Linked DNA regions of Homo sapiens: region 1 is linked to region 2. Evidence: fine-mapped expression QTL. A gene starts in region 2. The other region holds a variant in brackets. All regions are shown on one strand. Distances are between the middles of the regions.

What was found. PIP is the estimated chance that this variant, and not a neighbour inherited with it, causes the effect. A credible set is the group of variants that fine-mapping cannot tell apart.
Region 1: its variant is the best candidate, but not a certain one, in a credible set for the expression of RBSN in nasal epithelium (TOPMed, PIP 0.84).

The regions. Positions count from the first base shown.
Region 1 is chr3:15,247,707-15,250,206 of GRCh38, forward strand. The region is part of intron 19 of CAPN7 (calpain 7); the gene reads left to right. Among named protein-coding and RNA genes, the nearest start is that of SH3BP5-AS1, 5.2 kb to the right of the region's middle. The variant G/A (reference allele first, on the strand shown) is at 1,029.
Region 2 is chr3:15,097,864-15,100,890 of GRCh38, forward strand. It overlaps RBSN (rabenosyn, RAB effector), which reads right to left and starts at 1,285. Exons shown (of 14, transcript NM_022340.4): 1 at 1,172-1,285; 2 at 256-411. RefSeq lists a silencer at 73-152 and enhancers at 490-1,354, 1,243-1,372.

The DNA.
Region 1 (2,500 bases), 150 kb after region 2:
AGGCAAAACAATACAGCTTCTAGATGATAATGCAGGAAATGTTTTAACCTCAAGAGAGGAAAGATTTCTTAAGACAAAGAGCATATTAAAATGTTTGTAAATATGCTGCATTGATAAGAAAAAAATCTGCAGTTTTTAAAAAATAAAAACACATTCATGTCCTTTGTAGGGACATGGATGAAATTGGAAATCATCATTCTCAGTAAACTATCGCAAGAACAAAAAACCAAACACCACATATTCTCACTCATAGGTGGGAATTGAACAATGAGATCACATGGACACAGGAAGGGGAATATCACACTCTGGGGACTGTTGTGGGGTGAGGGGAGGGGAGAGGGATAGCACTGGGAGATATACCTAATGCTAGATGACGAGTTAGTGGGTGCAGCGCACCAGCATGGCACATGTATACATATGTAACTAACCTGCACAATGTGCACATGTACCCTAAAACTTAAAGTATAATAAAAAAATAAATAAATAAATAAAAATAAAAAAATAAAAACACATTATAAAGGGGGCAATCCAGATGGCCAGTAAACCATTGTAATAGCCAGAAATTGGAAACATATATTCATTGACAACATTTAAGATTATAATATAGTCATATAATAGTCCTGATATAACAATGGAAATAAATTACAGCTACACACAACATAATGGATAAGTCTTAAAAAGCCACATGTACAGAATACATACCATGTGATTCTACTTCTGTGAAGTCAAGAACAGACAAAACTGAAATACTCATGTAAGGATGCACACTAAGGTAGTAAAACTATAAAGCAGAGCAAGAGAGTTATTACTATAAAAGCTCTGTCGAGGGACAGGAGTTGCAATTAGGAATATACAGGGAATTCTGTGGTGCTGAGAGGATTTGTTGATCTGGGTGATGGTTACCCAGGTGTTTATTCACTTTGCAAATGATTAAGTTGTATATATGTTTTACTTAAGTGTTATATTTCATAGTTTTAAAAGGTTTAAAAAATATAGAGAATACAGCCTGGGCATGGTGGCTAACACCT[G/A]TAATCCCAGCACTTTGGAAGGCCAAGACAGGAGGATCGAGTTCAGGAGTTCAAGACCCGCCTGAGCAACATGGCAAAACCTCATCTCTGCAAAAATTTTTTTAAAAATTTAGCCAGGCATGGTGGCATGTGCTTTGTATAGTCCCAGCCACTTGGGAGGCTGAGGTGGGAGGATGACTTGAGCCCGGGAGGCAGAGGTTGCAGTGATCCCAGATGATGCCACTGCACTCCAGCCTGGTTGACAGAGCGAGACCCTGTCTCATACAACAACCAAAAAAAAAAAAAAAAAACAAAAACAGAATACAAATAAAAACAGAACTACCTTCTAAATAAGATTGGGCTTAATTTTGCTTTTCTTACAAACTAATCCAGCAGCAGCAGTTAATAACCCATTAGATACGAAGATTTGATTAAACTATTTTTCCACAAGAAAGTCATTTTTAAAACCTCTACCAGTTTGATAGGTGAAATAGGTAAATAAACCTATTTGCTCTTTTGTACTTAATTTCTAGATAGATTGAACATGTAATAATGTTCATTACAATATTGTTTATTCCCTATTCATGTTTCTTGCCCATAGAGTTGTCATTTTTTTTAATTATAAGCATGAAAAAGGTAAGGGTATTAACTCCTTCACATATTTGTGGATATTTTTCTCAGATTGTCATTTTTCTCCCACATAGAAAAACATTTCATTTTAAAATAATGAATCTGTCTTCTGGTTTCATTTTGCTGTGGACAGGAACTCTCACCACATTACCAAATTAATTTTCACCATATTCTGATTATTTTATGGTTCAATTTTTTGCATTTAAAAAATTCATATGAATATATTTTTATATTTGGTATGAAATACAATTTAAGAGTTTTTTTCTAAATTTTTTGTTACCTCATCACCATCTAAATGAATCTTTCCTTACTGATTTGGAATGCCACGTTTATAATATGCTAAGTACTTCTGTAAATTCAGAGTTTGTTTCAGGGCTTTCTTTCCTGTCCCATAGGCCTTTCCATTTGTTACAATAACAATTTTTTTTTTCTTTTTTTTTTGAGACAGAGTCTTGCTCTGTCACCAGGCTGGAGTGCAGTGTGTGATCTCGGCTCACTGCAACCTCCGCCTCCTGGGTTCAAGCGATTCTCCTGCCTCAGCCTCCCAAGTAGCTGAGGCTACAGGTGCACACCACCATGCGCAGCTAATTTTTGTATTTTTGGTAGAGACGGGATTTCAACATGTTGGCCAGGATGCTCTTGATCTCTTGACCTTGTGATCCACCCACCTCTGCCTCCCAAAGTGCTGGGATTACAGGCGTGAGCCACCGCGCCTGGCCAATGACAATATTTTTAATTATACCCTGTGGCCAGGCGTGGTGGCTCAAGGCTGTAATCCCAGCACTTTGGGAGGCCAATGTAGGAGGATAGCTTGAGCCCAGAAGTTCCAGACCAGCCTGGGCAGCATAGTGAGACCCCCTGTC
Region 2 (3,027 bases):
CTATTTTTTCCCTCTAGTTAAGAAACCCAGTGACTTCATAACTTTTCCACTGGAATATAGCAGCCCTAGGTCTGGCCTGTTCCCTCCCCAGCCAGTGGTTCATCTGATGCTGACTCTGACAGCTCCCTTTCTTCCCATGCACTCACCCCTAACGACCACAAATAACACAAAGCCCACCACATCCATGCCACACAACCACCCTTCACGCCTCAGCCCAAACCCAAACCTCACTTCCTCAAAAGAAATGCCTCTTACTCAGAGCATCAGAATGGACTTCTCCTTCACAGCACTCATCTCAATTTATAACCGCAGGTACATACGTGAAGTGACCAAGTAAGACTGTAAAATCTGGGAGGGCACAGACTCTATATGTTTTCCACTTCGCCGTCTCCCCAGGGTTTAGCACAGTACCTGGCACACACAATGAAGCAGCACAATAAAGCTCCATGAATGAACGAAGAAATGAATGAACTCCAAAATCATATAACTAAGCATACACCATAAAGAAATCTAACACAACCACCGAATTGGACCCCACAACCATAACTGAACACATAAGCAAGCCCCTCGCACTCTAAATCACGTAAAAAGTAAAAAAAATAAAAATAAAAAAAATAAATATAGCTACATGTTCTGCAGCCGTACATCCAGCATGAATGTCACCCCGCCACATGCCGCATCGACGACACATCCCACAGCCGCACTCAACCCGGCCTCACGATCGCAACCACAACCCACATAACTAACATGATTATACACACATCGCATGACCACACACAACACGAACGACTCAATCCCGTGAAGCAGACATGACAACGTCACACATCGCACAGACACCACACAAAACACTCCGAACATCTCCACACGAACTCAGAATACAAACGCTTCAGCTTTACACAACCAGAGAATCAAACACAACCGCTCGGGAGACAAGCACCCACCCACTCCACCCACAGCTGCACAACCAAACCCAAGTGTATACGCCCCGCGTAACCGCACAACCACACAGAGCCCAATCATCAAAGGCACACACAAGCGAAACGCACGGCCTGAAAGCCCCATCTCCCACCTCTCACGTCACACCCACCACAACCACACACGGCCCGCCCGTCTCCGTTCTGGAGGAGTCGTGTCCCCGCCCCCCAGACTGGGCCTGACCCTCTGTATGTACCCTGCCGGGCTCCTGCGGGCACCCAGGTTTGTCCCCCCCTTCAGGCCCGGGCTCTGGGCCTCCACCGTCCGTCACTCAGCCGCAGCCGCCATCTCCATCGGTCGCTCGGAACTCGGCAGGTGCGCCTGCGGCGGCGACGAAACCGGAAGACAAGCTGGTAGACGCCTGTCGAGCGCCGAGTCTTCGAGGGCGCGAAAAGGGCGGATACGGATTCGAATAGTGGAGGGCGGGCCGGCGGCTTCTGCGCAGGCGCTTTCCGAACGAGGGAGGGGATGGTGGGGAGCGGAGAGAAAGTGGGGCTCGGTAATTTTGTGCGGTTCTTACGTCCCGAATTCGAACTAATAGCGCGTCAAAGCCAGCCAATGGCTCTGCACCGCCTTGTACAGGTGGGAAAGCTGAGACCAGTAGATCTTTGGCTCTTGACCAAAGTGCACAAAGAATAAGGCAGCCAAGGAATCAAAGTTCCTGAGAGCTAGAGACAGAAAAAATATTCAGGGGACGTGGAGGCGATGGAAAGTCCAAGAATAGAACCACATGAGAGTGGAGACTTGGTATGAGAAGGTGTATCCCGGGGTGTACAGCATGGCCAAGCCTGTGGAAAAGATGGCATTTTCAAAAGGCAGGACGATTGATCAGCCAGGACCTACCCCGTGCCTACGCTGTGCTGGGTACCACGGGGTATAGAGAGGCAAAACCTCATCCCAGTCCCGGAGACCTATTTGCTTTGTGCCCTGCACACGTTCTGGACCTTAGCAATAGCCAGCCTCTAGGAGCAAGAGCTGCAGAGAACGATGGGACGATGGGACGATCCTGGGCCTCCGTTTACATCCCTGCAGTGTTACTGGCCCCCTTTTACAGAAGTAAAATGGGGATGATAATGATAGTCTCCGCTTCACAGTGTTGTGAAGATTGAGGTAATTGCACGGTAGGTAGGTAGGTAGGAGGGTGTCCTGCATATTGGCTTTGCCCATCTCACTTTCCCTGCCTCCAAAAAGTCTTCCCCACCTGGTCTCTGGACAGGAGCACTGAGCCTCCATCACCTTCCATTTAAGGACATGGGGCTCCGGACTTGGAGAGCATTGAGTTTTTGGAAAGCAATCACCAGTGAAAGGGCAGTGAACTAGGGGTCTAGAGATCTGGGTTCTAGCCCTGGCTGTACGTTACTTTGTGGCTTTGAGCAGGTCCTTTCCCCTTTCTTCGCCTGAGTTCTCTCATCTGTACAAAAGAAATTGGCTCCAGTGACTTAGCCTTTTCTCTCAATCTGATGGCCAATTTTTTTTTAACGTTACAACATCTGCAGGAGCGAATAATGACTTCCCTTTGTTTACTGATGGAGACAAGGAAGAGGCTTCCTAACCTGTCAGAAGCAAAGCAACATGCCAAGCTCCCCGTCTCCATCACTAGCTTCTGCCTTAGGTCCCAAAAGCCAGGACTTTGGGAGTAAAACCACCCTTTTGAAAGTCTGAAGCCACCGAGGTCCCAAAACGAGCCACACTTACAGGCAGGACTATGTTTTGGGTAGGGCAATGAACGTTTATTAAACCATCATGATTTTTGCTTGTCATTTTATCATTTACAAAAAACATATTTGGTCGGGCGCGGTGGCTCACGCCTGTAATCCCAGCACTTTGGGAGGCCGAGGTGGGCAGATAACTTGAGGTCAGGAGTTCAAGACCAGCCTGGCCAACATGGTGAAACTCTGTCTCTACCAAACATATAAAACATTAGTCGAGTGTGGTGTCGCTCGCCTGTAATCCCAGCTACTCAGGAGGTTGAGGCAGAAGAATTGCTTGAACCCAGGAGGCAGAGTTTGCAGGGAGCCAAGATTGTCCCACTGCACTCCAGCCTGGGCAACA